Regions from separate parts of the Homo sapiens genome. Here region 2 is linked to region 1. The links come from fine-mapping of genetic effects on gene expression. A gene starts in region 1. The other region holds a variant in brackets. All regions are shown on one strand. Distances are from middle to middle. Region 1 holds the start of PLB1 (phospholipase B1). Region 2 has its middle 31 kb from the start of PLB1.

Region 1 (4,391 bases):
GATTGATTGAGCCCAAGAGTTCAAGACCAGCCTGGGCAGTATAGTGAGACCTCATCTCTGTTTTTCAAAAAAATTTTTAAAAAGAGTGTCTAAGAAATGTTGCTTCCCCTACAGCCTCACAGTTGGTGAGGATTCCTTGATGCATGGATGGAACTCAGAGATTTATTCTACCTAAAAGGACATCCAGTCTATCCCATACCAAAATGCCTTCCCAACATTCAAATGTTTTTAAGGCATTTCTCAATTTTTCTAAATGTGAAAGGAGTTAGAGGAAGGATGGTAACCCAGTTGGGCTGTGGTAGTCCTGGAGAGAAGCAGTTAAGAGATGGAGCGAGTACCTGGAGCGTGGAACCAACTTACTTCTGCGCATGCCCCATGTCCTTTCCACCCCACCTCCAGCTGGCCTGCACATGAGTGGGGACCTTGGCCTATTCAGCCCAGGCAAGTTCAGTGATGCTCCTCAAAGCTGCTGGTGGCATGGAGCTGGGTAAACTCCTGACATCCTTAGTGGGACAGCAGCTCTGGCTTCTCATTGAACTTGGGGGCAGTTTGGTGAAGTTGACAAGTGTCTACATATCCAGGGGCATCTGTGCTCACTTGTCCCCCACAGACCTTGGCCTTGGGTGTATTTTCTTCTTCCTTTTCTGTGTGTCTGTGTGTGCTGCCCTCTTCTAGGCTCTGGAACTAGCTGATGGCCAGCTGGACTAAGTGTGTCAGTGTCCACACACCTCTGGCATGTCCCAATACCCCCCTACAGTCCTGAGGCTTAGGCTAAGCCTTTGGCATTGGCTAAATCAGTGGTGACCCACAAGTCACATATTTTCTGAGCAGTTGAGAAAGGGAGACAACATCCTAAAACCAGAGATTCAGGAACAAAGGGCCACTCACTTCGTCTTCACTTTCTACTCAAGACAATAGAGGTTATAACAGTAATTAAAAACAATTTTTTTTTAATTGAGATGGAATCTTGCTCTTGTCCAGGCTGGAGTGCAGTGGTGCAATCATAGCTCACTGCAACCTTGAACTCTTGGGCTCAAGCAATCCTCTTGCCTCAGCCTCCCAAGTACCTGGGACTACAGGTGCATGCCACCATGCCTGGCTAATTTATTTTTATTTTTTGTAGAGATGGAGTTGCCCAGGCTGGTTTTCAAACTCCTGGGTTCAAATAATCCTCCTTCTTTAGCCTTCCAAAGTGCTGGGATCACAGGTGTGAGCCACTGTGTCTGGCTGTGATTTTTAAATATGAGAAAAGTGGGTCAGCCAGGAGATCAGAATCTGAGGTTGGGTCATGGGAACCAGCCCTAGAGTCTTAGCTAGACCTCAGAAGTCAGGATCCCAGCCTCACACCCACAAGCATGGCCAGAAAGCAAGGATAATTTAAATATATTTGTTCCTATCAACCAAGGCAATTGTTTCTTGATATTTGTGTAAAAAATTTAAATTCTACTCTCAAGGGTATTTGTCACTCAGGCTTTAAATGCCAGCTTTGTCTGCCCAGTTTAGACCCAGCCTGCATTCCTGACTTAGTTTACCCAAAGGAAACGGCTGATTTTGTCAAACTTGGTTCCCCCTCTCTGGCTTGTATCTCTGAATTCAACATGCAGACAACAAATCTATGGTGTGCACATCCACCCAACACAACTGGCCACCCATGGGTTTGGAGATGGGGGGAACAGAACAAACCTCTCTGTGTCATGCAAACCAGGGAACCTAGCAGAGCTTCTGAGACACGGTGGGAACACGTTTCACATTTGGAGGTAGGTTTATGGTTTACATTTGTTACAAGGTACTTTTGATCTCCTGGCTTACAACTGAGAAAGCTGAGGCCACGTTAAGGGATACACCCAAGTTCCCACAGCTGTGGTTGATTTGGAATTCCGACCAGCACCTGGGATTCCCAGGCCCACGTTCTTCCCAGCAGACCCGAACACCGGCAATTTCTGGGCACCCACCATCATGGAAGGCTGTATGGAGGCAGCTATGCGGCCCTGGTCTGTCAGTGTCTATGACTAGAACATGCTACCCATCATTGACTCATCTGCCTTAAGAACTCTTCCGCCTAAGTGTTAATATTTATCATTTACAGCCCGCCACTACCCCCTTTCAAAGGTGAACACAGTAAAATTTATGACAGGTGCTCTATCAGAACACAGAGGAACATAAAAGCAGGAGGAGGTGTGATAGCCCATCCATCTGCTGGAGCAGCTCTTCCAGAGGCCCGAGTCACCTGGAGCATTCTGGCATGGGGCTGCGGCCAGGCATTTTCCTCCTGGAGCTGCTGCTGCTTCTGGGGCAAGGTAAGCGTGCCTTTTGCTCAGAGGACAACCAGTGGTTTAGCCCCGCTGGTGTCCCATGTTGCTTAGGCAATGGGTGTGTGAGAGGAGTGTGTGCTTTTGAAGAGATAAAGCACAAAGCGTACAGTTCAAGAATAAGAAGTCTGGTTTGCCTCCTGCGGAATGGGATGCAGAGGCTGCCTACACAGGGTTACATGTCCCAAAGGCTGCCGGGAGCGAGGCAGATCTTGGGACAGGAGAGAAGTGCAGTCCGGTAGCAGTACCATGGTACAAAAAAAACCCCTGGATTCTATTTGTTTGTGCTTTGTGGCTTTGGGCAAGTTCTTCCACCTCCCTGGACCTTGATTTTTTTCATCCTTAAAATGGAAATACTACTACTATGCACATTTTGATCATTACTATTACCATTTATGAGCTTTGTTTTGTTTTTGAAGGACAAAGGAAGACAGATTTCCAGATGATAAATTCTAAAAGATTGCCTACATTCTTTAGTGCTGCTAAACAGAGTGCTGAGCTTTCATTGAACTGAGTGGGCAACCAGCCAGGGCTTTCCATTCCCCCCAACATTAATGACTGTGGGTAGATTGTGCCTCTGCCACAATCCCTCTCTGCCCCTCTTCTTCCCATCATTGGCTCTCCCTTTGCTTAGGAAGGCAGAATCTTTTAAACTGAAAAGGGCCTTAAAGATCTTTCATCTTCTCCAGATGAGAGGACGGGGTCTGGAGTGAGAAGGCACTTGCCCTTGACTCCCCAGAGAGAGTGGAGGAGGCATGGGACAGAGTCCTGGGCCTGCCTAGGGTCTGAGCCCATGCTTGAGGCTTCTCTGGGGCAAGTCAGTTACCGCTCTGAGCCGTGGGGGAGAATGACGATGCTTGCTATGCCTTCTGCACAGGATGATTGTATTTCTTTGATTACTGATGAGGCCAAGGAGTGTTTTCATAGAGATTGTTTGAGTTTCTCTTTTGTGAAGTGCCTGTTGAAGTCTTTTTCCTATTGATTTTTTAGGAGTTCTCCATATATGCTGTGTACTAGCTCTTTGGAGGTTACATATATGACAAATATCTTGTTCCACTCTGAAGCTTGTCCTCCTATGGGGACTTTTGATGAGCAAAATTCTTAATTTTGTGTAAATAAATGTAGACTACCCAAATGAGGACAAACAGAGGCTACTTATTCAGAGCTCGCTGTAGCGAGACATCACTTATGTTTGGCCAAGATTCAAAGGCAGGCAGGGGAGTGGGAAAGTTTCACAGTGGAAAAAAGGGAAATCTTCAGATCTGCTCTGGTTGGAGGTTGTTGGTATCAGGGACCAGCTGACTAGAGGCACGGCATCTGAAGTTATCCAGTTGGGAGTGTATCTGGCTTTCTCTGAGGGGTCCTGAGTTGGAAGCAGAGCAAAAAATAGAGAAGATGGCAGTCATTAACCAAACCTGACCATTCTGGGCTGATTGCTGCAGAGGCTGCAGTTTGGTTCTCTGGCCTGGCCGATTGCAGACTGTGGCTCAGAGTTCTGTTATCATATGTGGTCCCACCGTTGTCCATTTGTATATTCTCTATTTTTTTTTTTTTTGAGACAGAGTCTGGCTGTGTCACCCAGGCTGGAGTGCAGTGGCTTGGTCTCAGCTTACCGCAACCTCTGCCCTCCAGGTTCAAGCAATTCCCCTGCCTCAGCCTCCTGAGTAGCTGGGATTACAGGTGCCTGCCGCCGTGCCTGGCTAATTTTTGTATTTTTAGTAGAGACAGGGTTTCACCATGTTGGCCAGGCTGGTCTCAAACTCCTAATCTTAAGTGATCTGCCTGCCTCGGCCTCCCAGAGAGCTGGGATTACAGGTGTGAGCCACCGTGCCCGGCCTTTATTCTTAAGTATATGTATTTTAAATCTTCCTTTATGGTTTGTGCTCTTTGTATCTTAAATAACTCCTCTCCTACCTCGAGGTCATGAAGATATCTTATATTTCCTTCTAAAAGCTTTATAAATTTACTTTTCTCGTTTAAGTCAATCACCCTACATCTGGGATTGACTTTTATGAATAGTATATGAGAGGAACCCAATGTTGTTATTATTATTTCTTTTTGAGATAGAGTCTCACTCTGTCA
Region 2 (4,391 bases), 31 kb before region 1:
TTTGTTGTGATTGGATACTTTTTGTACTGATCTGATTTCAAGGTTGTTGACTCCTTTATTATCTGAACACTGTTGTTAAGCCAAACTGGTGAATCTTTTATTTCAAACATTATCTTTTCCAGTTCTAGAATTTCTATTTAGTTTTCCTCTAAATCAAGTTTCTCTGCTGAGGTTTCCTATCTTTTTATTTGTTGTACATGTATCATCCTCAGCTTGCAAAGCATAGTTATAATAGCTACTTGAGAATTATGATTTTGTTAATTCCAATATCTAGGTCATCTCAGGGTCAGTCTCTGTTGATTGTCTTGTCTCTTAAAAATGGATCACATTTTCCCTGTTCTTCATATATGAAATAATTTGGATATTCTGAACATTATGATTGTTAAGTTGTGGAGACTCTGGATTCTGTTATTTCCCCTAACTGCTGATTTTTTTTTTTTTTTAATATAGATTCTTAGTTTGTCACTCAGGCTGGAGTGTGGTGGCACAATCATAGCTCACTGCAGTCTCAAACTTCTGGGTTCAAGCGATCTTCCCACCTCAAGCCTCCCAAGTAGCCACCATGCCTGGCTACTTTTTTAAATTTTTATTTAAATTTTATTTTTTGTAGAGAGGTGTCTCGCTATGTTGCCTAGTCTGGTCTCACACTCCTGGCTTCAAGTGCTCCTCTGGCTCCAGCCTCCCAAAGCACTGGGATTAAAGGATTGAGCCACTACGTCTGGCCAAATGCTGATTTTTAAATTTTGTTTTGTTTTAAGCAAGCTATTAACTTGGTTGGATCAAGCTGTAAACCATCTCTTGAGCACCAGTTTAAATCTCAGTTTAGTTTGTACATTCTTATCTGGGCTGCTTGAGCCTGCCTCATGCATGCATGGACTAGGAATTGGCCAGAGATTTGGACAGTTTATACACAGAATTTGTGGTTCTTCTTCTCTGCGTCTCTCTGTTTATGGATTCTCCCTCTCACTTTCCAATGGCTGTGGTTGCCTCGAACTCTATCCTTTGATTCTTTAGGCCAGAAGGACTGCAGACTTTCTATCATCATTTTATCTGCCCTGTGTGACTCTACCATGGCCTGCCTTTTGGATAAAAGCCATAAAAACTGTGAAACTCATCGCATATGCATCTTCCTTTTCCAAGTAGTAACTCCTCTCCAGAAACTGCCTGCTTTTGTTCACACTCCAGGGCCTTCAGGTCGTTGTTTTTCCTATTTTGTTCAGAGTTTATGGTAGTTACCTGTAGGGGTTTATACAGCAGGAGCTCACTATGCTACCCTGGAAACAGAACTGCGAGAAGTTTTGTTTGGACACATTACATTTCAGATGGTCACAAGATATGCAAGTGAAGATGTGCACTAGCCAGTTGGATGTATGCACCCGGAGCTCTGGAGATAAATCATTTAACATTTGACAGGGTATAGAAGGTATGAAGAGTCATGTGTGTGGGTAAAATCACCTAGGCCGTGAGTGTAGATGCATAAGAGAAACAGGTCCAGAACCCAGATCAGTGCACTCCAGTGTTTACACACCAGCATGATGAGGAAGAAGTAAGAATGCAGATGAGAAAGAGTGGGCAATGTCGAAAGAGGAAAACCACAAGAGCGTTGTCTTGAAGTCAAAATGAAGAAAGTATTTCAAAAAAAGACAGAGTGACCAAAGGTATCAAATGCTGTTAATGGCTTAAGTAAGATAAAGATGAAAAGTTCACTACTGGGTTTAGCAACATGAAGGTCCTTGGTGAACTGACAACAGTTTTGTTCCAGTGGAAGACTCAGAACTCACTGAAACGAAGACTTGAATCCATAAGTTTGGAGAAAGCTTTCAAGAAATTTTAACTGCCAAGAGAATAGAAAAATAGGATTGAAGCTGGAGGGGGCTATGAGGTCAAGAGAAGTTATGTTTTGATTTTCGACATTGGGAAAAATTATATCATGTTGGTATGCCAGAGGGCATAATTGAGAGGGGATCATTGATGTGTCAGGAAAGTGAGAGTTGGGCCGGGTGTGGAGGCTCACACCTGTGATCCCAGCACTTTGGGAGGCCAAGGTGGGAGGATCATTTGAGCTCAGGAGTTCAAGACCAGCCTGGGCAACACAGAGAGACCCCATCTCTAATTTAAAGGAAAAAAAAGAAAGT[G/A]AGAGTACAGAATCCTGTGCTCCAATGGAGAGCCAGCCTTAGATAGAATTGTAGGCAGCTCATTCATAGCAACTGTCAAATCCACACCATCATTTTTTGTCAGTTCCTTCAGTCTGCAGATGATATTAAAGAAACCTATTCAATAAGTTAAGCAATTCAGGAATATGGAGACAGGGGATACAGACTATGCCACTAATTCATTGCCATACCCCAGGCGATCTTATGGAAGAGGCACTAAGGGGCTGAGATGGAGGGATGGAGGGAACAGGACTGGCCATGGGGTGGACTCCAAAGACATGATGCATGCAGAAGTTCCTGGCTTCCTCCTGGGCTAGGGTGAGGAGTGTGGCCAATATGCAAGTGTCAGGATGGTGGTGGTCACGGTGGGGAGGTATGTCTGCGAATGGTGGGACACACAGACCTCATTTGAGAAAACGGATAGCAGCTTCCCGAGGAAAGTCTGGAATCTGCCTGTGCACTCTGCTGTGGCCTCTTCGACTCAGGAATGAAGCCCATCAGAGCTTGGTCCCAGGCCTGGTTGTCACCTTGCTCCCATCAGGATTGCACTTGGTTGCCATCTTGCTCCACCCCTGGCCAGATAAAATTAATCTGAGACAGGATTTGGCTCACAGAGCAGGGTTGCCCCCACTCTGTCTCTGACCTAGTGGCTTTCAAACTCGTTTTCACCAATTTTACATCGTAATTTGGTGCACATACATATATGATATATAGACTTACATAGTATTGAAACAAAACTTTAATGAAACATTTGGTCATTTAATCACTTGTGATGCGCTCTGGTATTTTCCATTTTTTTTAATGCTAGTTACAACCAACGAAACTGATTTCATGACTTCTAACCTGTAGTTGGGAAAATACCACTGTAACCACATAGATGACTTTGCTCTCGTCTGTCTCGTTCTTTCAGGGTGATGAGCAGCATAAAGATTCCAAGAAGCCTCAAACTGAGTTGATTATCTCGGTGTATCTATCTGTTCCCATAGATTAGCAAATGTGAACTTTAGAGCACATTTATGTAAATGTACTGTTGGTTTCCCTTGACCTGACCTCAAACCTGACTGACTTTTCTGCACACTGAGAGCTACAGTGCTGAGCTCACCACTTCATTCCTTTGTTCTCTCCTTATCTCATCCACTGCACCTCACATTCCATCTTTCCCCACTCAGTCCCCCTGGGAGCCCTTGAAGTTAAACTATTTGAATCATAGACTATCACAGGTGAAAGAGACTTAAGAAGTGTTTGATACAGTTATCCCTTTGGTGTAGTTCAATGATCTCCAGTCTCTGCTTGCATTTCTCCAGTGACAGAGGGCTCACTACTTAGCAAGGTAGTTTCTTTCCTTTCTTTCTTCTTTCTTTCTCTCTCTTTCTTTCTTTTCCTTCCTTCCTTCCTTCCTTCCTTCCTTCCTTCCTTCCTTCCTTCCTTCCTTCCTTCCTTCCTTCCCTCCCTCCCTCTCTCCCTCCCTCCCTCCCTTCCTCTCTCTCTCTCTCTGTCTCTCTCTTTCTTTCTTTCCTTTTGGCCAGATACAGGGCCTTGCTTTGTTGCCCAGGCTGATCTGGAACTCCTAGACTCCAGCAATCCTCCTGTCTCTGCCTGCCAAAGTGCTGGGGTGGCAGGCGTGACCCACGGCACCCAGCCTCATATTTTCAAAATATGCCAGAAAGCTGCATTTTAAAATATAAAATCATCCCATTAAAAAATGCCAACTAATTCAAAATCTTTTTTAAATTTTTCATGAGCTGACAGCCCAGGCTCACTGAAGACACCATGACACTCACATCTGCCTTCAGAGCCCAGTTCTGCGCCCGTAGTGCTGGGAGACTGAGTCTGGGCGGAGCCTGGTAACTTACCCACCCAGCTTTTACCCAGGTCTCTCCAGACGTTCTCAAGTCATTGCTGTAGCCAGGGCCAAATTCAAGAAAACAACCACATTTTCTGAAGAGCCAGAGGGAGCTGGCCTGAGTCTTGCACTAGTGGGTTTTTGTTTGTTTGTTTGTTTTTGGTAAGTGGAGAAAGCAAATGAACCTGGAATACTGTGTCAAAGAAGGCTTTGGATGGAATCCGATCCCCTACCCCGGCCAGGGTACTTACCTACTTGCTTCAGTCTTTCCTTAGCTTCTAGCTTCCTGAGTAACTTCCAACTTTCCTTCTCAATGACTCTGTTTGCTTATCTGTTTGCAAGGTAGTGAACATAAAAATCTTTTTGTGCACTTTCAGATATAAAACATGCAATGA

What was found.
Region 2: its variant is fine-mapped to the expression of PLB1 in whole blood (TOPMed, PIP above 0.99).

Annotation. Positions count from the first base shown.
Region 1 is chr2:28,493,873-28,498,263 of GRCh38, forward strand. It overlaps PLB1 (phospholipase B1), which reads left to right and starts at 2,188. Exons shown (of 58, transcript NM_153021.5): 1 at 2,188-2,297. The coding sequence starts at 2,243.
Region 2 is chr2:28,462,520-28,466,910 of GRCh38, forward strand. No RefSeq gene overlaps it. Among named protein-coding and RNA genes, the nearest start is that of PLB1, 31 kb to the right of the region's middle. The variant G/A (reference allele first, on the strand shown) is at 2,136.